2 linked regions of the Homo sapiens genome follow. The protein of the gene in region 1 purifies or fractionates together with the protein of each later gene. This does not show direct contact. Each region holds a gene or a part of one and is shown on either strand. Other genes may lie near its edges.

What was found.
Region 2: the proteins of MTUS1 (region 1) and TTC5 purify together in Homo sapiens (affinity purification with mass spectrometry; one large-scale study listed by BioGRID and IntAct). This does not show direct contact.

What each region holds. Positions count from the first base shown.
Region 1 is NC_000008.11:17,654,514-17,658,334, forward strand, and holds part of MTUS1 (microtubule-associated tumor suppressor 1), read right to left. Parts: intron 1,553-3,821; coding exon 1,350-1,552; intron 154-1,349; coding exon 48-153; intron 1-47. UniProt on the Homo sapiens protein: Cooperates with AGTR2 to inhibit ERK2 activation and cell proliferation. May be required for AGTR2 cell surface expression. Together with PTPN6, induces UBE2V2 expression upon angiotensin-II stimulation.
Region 2 is NC_000014.9:20,288,732-20,292,552, forward strand, and holds part of TTC5 (tetratricopeptide repeat protein 5), read right to left. Parts: intron 3,397-3,821; coding exon 3,252-3,396; intron 1,016-3,251; coding exon 896-1,015; 3' UTR 1-895. UniProt on the Homo sapiens protein: Cofactor involved in the regulation of various cellular mechanisms such as actin regulation, autophagy, chromatin regulation and DNA repair.

The sequences.
Region 1 (3,821 bases):
TTCCTTCAGATTTTATTCTGTTTAAAGAGGAAAAAAAGCATCCTTGCCTGAAAGGGAGGCTTCATAGGCCTTCTTTAGCAATTCAAGTTTCTCTGAGTGGCTAGCTTCAATTTCCAACTTAGAGGTTTCATGCGCAGCATTTAAGTTGTCAAACTGTAAGCAACAAACAAAACCGTGGTTTAACAGTAAAACCAAATGTCCTAAGTTGAATACGCAAAGCAACCACATTAGGAGACGTCACAGCTTCACAGGTAAGCGTGGGCTCTAGTTTAAAGGCTCCTCAACACATACAAAGGTCAGGGCAGTGGTTCACACTTGTAACCTCAGCACTCTGGGAGGCAGAGGTGGAGGATCACTTGGAGCCCAGCAGTTCAAGTCCAGCCTGGGCAATGTCGCGAGACTCTGTCCCCACATGTGCACACACAAAGAATGCATGAAGAGCAACGCAACTGGGATTCACCGCTCAACTCTCCTCTGTCTCCTTCCCTACCCTCAGGAACACAGACACAGAGGCTCTCCAGGGTGACAGATGGAAATGGCTGCATCAGTCACAAGGAATGACCAGGAACGAGGATATGTTTCACAGTGACAGGGCCACATGCTCTGCGCCTGTCACTTGACCACTCAGGCCCTAGCATGTGCCTGGCCTGGAGTAGGCACTCTGTAGATATTTACTAAATGAAAAACTGAGTTAAAAAGGGAGCTACAAAATTAAAAAGGTTTGATATTTTATTCAGTGAAAAAAAAAATGGGATATTTAAACAGATGCCACTAAAAAAAAAAAAAAGAAAGAAATGCAAAACAATAGTTTGGCAACACACCACCAGGATGTTTACAAGGGATTATTTCTGGGTAGAAAGAAAGGGTTGTTTTTTCAATTTTATCTTTTCCTCCTCCTTTTCTTCCCTTCTTTCACTTAACATAATACATTCCTTTGGTCATAAGAAAACTATTCAATTAAAAAGATACTGTTTCCAAGGCAGGCGGATCACCTGAGGTTGGGAGTTTGAGACCAGCCTGGCCAACATGGTGAAACCCCGTCTCTACTAAAAATACAAAAATTAGCTGGGCATGGTGATGGGTGCCTATAGTCCCAGCTACTCAGGAGGTTGAGGAAGGAGAATCACTTGAACCCGGGAGGCAGAGGCTGCAGTGAGCCAAGATCAAGCCACTGTACTCCAGCCTCCAGCCTGGGAGACAGAGTGGGACTCTGTCTTAAATAAACAACAACAACATGCTTTTTATACCTATTAGACTAAAAAAGAGAAGCTCATCAAGATGTGAAGAGCAACCAGGATTCAAGTAAGCAGCAGAGGCCTCAGACAAGCTCTGGCTGCAAAAGCACAGACCTGCTCTTGCAATTGCATTTTGTACTTCTCTGCTTCTTCAATGTAAGTGTCCCGAAGCTTTTCATACTCCCTGGTGTAAAACTCTTTAAGCCGATTCTCTCGTTCTGTTTTTTCAGCCTGGTGCTGCTGGACGAATGCTTCATACACTGTTTGTAACTCATTCCTGGCTTTTTCTAATTTCTCACAGGTGGTTGAAGCAGTGACTGAAAACAGAGGAGAAAGAAGAGGGAAGAGGTCATTTTATTTGTGAAATGTCCTATATTCATTACAGTCACACACAGCTGTGATGACACCTGAAGCATACACCCATGATGTCTTGGGTCTCTAGTGACCATGTCTTCAAATATAACAGTATGGAAGTGAACTGTAAAAAGGAACACGAGGGCAGGGCGCAGTGGCTCACACCTGTAATCCCAGCACTTTGGGAGGCTGAGGTGGGGGAATCACCTGAGGTCAGGAGTTCAAGACCGGCCTGGTCAACATGGTAAAACCCTGTCTATCTTAAAAATACAAAAATTAGCCGGGCATGGTAGCAGGTGCCTGTAATCCCAGCTACTCGGGAGGGTGAGGCAGGAGAATTGCTTGAACCCGGGAGGCGGAGGTTGTAGTGAGCCAAGATCACGCCACTGCACTATAGCCGGGGTGACAGACTGAGACTCCATCTCAAAAACAAACAAACAAAACCCCCCCCCACCCCACATTCAAAAAACTGACTCCCAAGCAGTAAGAGAAGTACTTCAGAAGACCCAGGTTTCTAAGAGAAGATCCCCTCTCATGTGGTGACCAGTCAATGCAGTGGTCAAGAAAAGAGCCTTGGCCAGGCAGAGACATTTCTTAGGACAAGCGACTCCTCCCTCTCCCAGCCAGCCAGTGTGGTAGAAGCTCACACAAGAGCAGGAAAGACGAGGGATAAGAAACAAGTGGACCGGCCGGGCGCGGTGGCTCACGCCTGTAATCCCAGCACTTTGGGAGGCCGAGGCAGGTGGATCATGAGGTCAGGAGATCGAGACCACGGTGAAACCCTGTCTCTACTAAAAATACAAAAAATTAGCCGGGTGTGGTGGTGGGCGCCTGTAGTCCCAGCTACTCGGGAAGTTGAGGCAGGAGAATGGCGTGAACCCAGGAGGCGGAGCTTCCAGTGAGCCGAGATTGCGCCACTGCACTCCAGCCTGGGCGACAGAGTGAGATTCTGTCTCAAAAAAAAAAAAAAAAAAAAAAAGAAACAAGTGGACCTTAAACTTGTAGTTAATTTGAGTTGATTATAATTTGTTATTTCAAAACTAATAAAAATAAAATATTAGCCTCTATTAAACGCAAATCACCAGAGCACAAATATCTTAGGGAAAAAAAAACACATCTTAAAAGCACCCACATAGGCCAGGCACGGTGGTTTGTGCTATAATTCAAGTATTTTAAGAAGCTGAGACCGGGCGCGGTGGCTCACGCCTGTAATCCCAGCACTTTGGGAGGCCGAGGCGGGCGGATCACGAGGTCAGGAGATCGAGACCATCCCGGCTAAAACGGTGAAACCCCGTCTCTACTAAAAATACAAAAAATTAGCCGGGCGTAGTGACGGGCGCCTGTAGTCCCAGCTACTTGGGAGGCTGAGGCAGGAGAATGGCGTGAACCCGGGAGGCGGAGCTTGCAGTGAGCCGAGATCCCGCCACTGCACTCCAGCCTGGGCGACAGAGAGAGACTCCGTCTCAAAAAAAAAAAGAAGCTGATGCAGGAGAATCATTTGCACCTAGGAGTTCATGACCAGCCTGGACAACATAGGGAAACCCATCTCTTAAAATTAAAAAAAAAAAAAAAAAATTATCCAGGCATGATGGTGTGGGCCTGTAGTCCCTGCTACTGAGGAGGCTGAGGTGGGAGGATCACTTGAGCTCAGGAGATTGAGGCTGCAACTGTTGGGCAACAGAGCAAGACCCTATCTCAAAAAAAAAAAAAAAAAAAGCAATATAAAATGAAAGGTTAAAAAAATTTATATATGTATACATAGGTACATATGTGCACGTATATATGCATACATATGTATGCATGCATATATGTATATATCTATGTGTACATGTGTATATATGTACATATATGTATGCATATATACATGCATATACATATACATATATAATACATATATACACATATATACACTATATATATAGACACACACACACACACACACACACACACACACACACAGAGTCTTGCTGTATTGCCCAGGCTGAAGTGCAATGACACAATCTTGGCTCACTGCAACCTCCAACTCCCAGGTTCAAGCGATTCTCCTGCCTCAGCCTCCTCAGTAGCTGGGATTACGGCACATGCCACCACGACCAGCTAATTTTTGTATTTTAGTAGACACATGGTTTTACCATGTTGGTCAGGCTGTTCTCTAACTCCTGACCTCGTGATGCGCCTGCCTCGGCCTCCCAGTTAATATATTTTAAAAGGGCAAAGTAATCTGATACACAT
Region 2 (3,821 bases), on another chromosome or scaffold:
CCTCACTCACATTTCTCCATTTTACCACAAGGATATTAAGATAAACTGTTATAAAACATGTCACTAGACTCTAAAGAAACTGAGGATTTATCTAACTCTCTCTGGTCCTTCAGCCTAGTAACACTATTAGAACAGTATTGCTCTGTCATCTTGGACCATAGTGAAGACCACCCCTAGGGAATGACAGAATGGGAAAATGGAAGAAAGCTGGTCTCTAGCAACTTTGTGGAGTTGCCATTCCTGCCTGGGGCTGTCTATTGTCGGAATTCTTTTAACTGGGAGAGAAATAAACTGCTTTGTATAAAGAAAAAAATGGGGGTATTACTCCAATAAATTGAAGTGATCCTAAAACAAAGAATACAGGCCTAGGGAGAATAAAGCAGGCCAAACTACGTGGTGTTTTTTTTTTTTTCCAAACAAATTTAATTCTGTTCCAGCCCCAAAGAAGAGGAAGGACCTAAAGTTCAAAAATAAAAATAAAAATTGCTAAAAATAAAAGCCATTACAAAATTAAGCCCCCTCCTTTAGCAATAAATACTGAACTGATATATACATATGAGGCTTAGGAAGGAGGCAACAACAGGAACCTTGGGGACTCTGTCCCATGGCAAGATCCCAAGACTTCTACCAATTCCATGCTCTTTGCTTAAAACATAGAGAGCAGTGGAAGAGACAGGAGAGATATGCCAGAAGAGTATGTGGCCCTGTAGAGAGCTGGAACATGATGAGGACAGAGGAGAGAGAAGAGATACGAAGTGTAATACAGGCAGGGAAAGAGAAAGTCTTCATTTAAAACATTCCTCCCATCCCTGCTGAATCACTGGATGTGGCTGGACCGGCTGTCCAGAGCCTTGTCTCCTCTCCTCCACTCCCTGTTGAGCATGCAAGTCAAAGGTCATTCACACTGTGGTCGCGATGCCACTGTGGCAACAGCCTGGCTGCTGGATCCCTGAGGCTTCCCATTCACCACTAGCAGGAGGGGCGTCTCCACTCGAACACTGGAAAAGGAATAGTCCTAGAAAAGACAGACAGACAAAGGTTCACTACAGATTCCAAGATGGAAAAAGCTCCAGCATGGGGATACACCACTTGCAACTTTCTGCACCACCTCCCCTGTTGTATACCCCCTCTACTTCCATCTCACATCAGACAAAACTGAGCTAACACAGGGGACGAAAATTTCCCAAAGTTTTCAATCTTCAGAAGGAAAACATGGAGCATGTAAGGTCATGTAGTGCCACTACAAGAATGAGACAGCTCTTTGATCCAAAAAAGGCAGGTTCCTGGCATTGCCTAACAAAAGAATGCAACCAACTCTCATAGAATCTGCCTTTTCCCACGGTGTTTCCTGATAATTAACTAGATACACATAGCAGCCGGCCAGAGCCAGTGGGAATCCTGAGAAAATCTCAGTCCAAATGTTTATAAGGTCCTAATTTAATCCACCAAATACAAATTAAAGTTACTTCTCTTTTATATCAAGAGGAGGAAATAGAACATGAAACAGAATGTAGCCGTTTTCCTAATAACAAAAAAGGTATCAGCTCACTGTATCAGTTTAAGTGTATTTTAAGTTGTAAAACATATTAAATAGTCTTCATCCAAAAAATATGGCAATGAGAGGCAGGCTCTTTTAAGTCCAAGTAAAGTAAATTTAAAAGTTCTCATAAACCAATTTTTTTTAAGTCTTCACAGAAATATCAACAAGTGACACAAAAAATGGCAATTTATACAAGAAATATAAATTAATATTCATGCTATATTTTCCATGTAAAATTAGAAAATAACTTTTCAAAGGTTTCCAACCAGAGTTGAGAAAAAAACTACAGAGAAACACTTATTTACATCCACTGTTGGTAGTGACAACTAACTAGTACAATTTTCCAAAGAATTATTTGGCAATATGTATCAAAAGCCTCAGAATTCTGCATACCCTTTGGACCCAGGAGTCTACATTAGAAATTCATTTAAGGAACTAATCATAGATACAAGCAAAGATACAAAAATCCTCACTGTGTTTCTAATTTTTTTTCTATTATAAAAGTACTAATTTAGATCGGAGGTCATCAAAGTATTTCTGCAAAGGGACAGATAGTAAATATTTTAGGCTTTGTAGGTCATATGGTCTCTGTTACAGAACAAGTCACCTCTGACACTATAGTGCAAAAACAGCCACAGACAATAGTAAGCAAATGAGTGTGGCTGTGTTCCAATAAAGCTTTATTTGTGGACACTGAAATCTGAATTTCCTGTAATTTTCACATATCACAAAATATTACGCTTCTGTCCATTTTTTTCACTTAACAACACAGAAACCACACTCTTGTTTTTCTTTTTTTTTTGAGGCAGACTTTCTCTATCACCCGGGCTGGCGTGCAATGGGACAATAATGGCTTACTGCAGCCTCAAACTCCTGAGATAAAGTGGTTCTCTCACTTCAGCCTCCTTAGTAGCTGGGACTACAGGCATGTGCTACCATACCTGGCTAAGTTTTTTAACATTTTTTTGTAGAGACGGGGTCTCACTATATAGCCCAGGCTGGTCTTAAACTCCTGGGCTCAAGTGATCCTCCCACCTTGGCCTTCCAAAGTGCTGGGATTTTACGCATGAGCCACCATGCCCAGCCTAGAAACCATTATTAATAAACACAAGCAGTGAGCCAGATTTGGTCAATGGGCTTTGCCAACCTCTGATCTAAATGGTTAAACAGTAGTTAAATATCTACATTCATAAGGTTTTTTTAAGAATTGAATGGGGCAAGGCAGGTAATAAAAACTCTTAGCACAGTGTCTAGCACTCAATTAAGTGTTAAATAAATGTTAACTATCATTACCATCTTCATCACCCCGTGTCTACTCAATGTGGTGAAATATGTAAAAACATAGGAAACATTCACAAACATTTGCATATAATATCCCACTCATGATTTAAAATATAGATATATGTGTATATATTTGTGAAAAGAAAAGACTTCAGGTATATACACCAAACTGTTAACAGTAACAGTTAAAAGGCAGTAATACCTGAGTGATAATATTTCACTGCATTTTTTTATTTTTCTGCTTACCAGTTTACCTTTTTAGTAAAAAAATACATATATATATATAAATAAAACATATACACACAAATATATATACACATAGCCTACACACATACTTACATATAATTATTTCTATATCTTTTATAAAAAGATAAGCTTGGTTCTACTTTTAGAGCCTACGAGTTGTAAGAGAATCCTAGCCATTGCTCACCTTTCCTTTGTGCTGAATTCGGTGAAGCCGCAGGTTGGGCTCAGGAATGGCTACAGAGTCTCCAATGAGCACTCCCCAGCTCTGCACTATATTGTACACCATCACTGCATAGCAAGGTCCATCTGAATCTACCAGGCCAAATGTACTACCAAGTAAAGACAGATTAGGAGAGAGGAAAACAAAAAGGTATGTGGGTAGGAAAGAAGAGCAGAAACAGTGGTTTAAAAATACTAGCAAAATACTGGACTTAAAGTCAGTGACAGGTAATTAAAATAAAATATAAAATTTAACTTAATTAAACTTTAAAAATAAAATACTAACAAAATAAACAAATGCTTTTTCTCAGTTACTCAGAAAACCTATGAGAGGTACCATCTTCCACTTTATATATCTGAGTCTTCATTTTTCTGAAACTCATCAGTCACTTTGCTAAGAACTTAGGACAAAGCACACTGAAGCCATTCAACAAATATTAATGATGAACTAGACCAACATGTTACAGTTGTAACATTATTCCTGGTCTATCAATTTAACTATCATACTCTTAACCAAAGCCTCTAACCATCACTG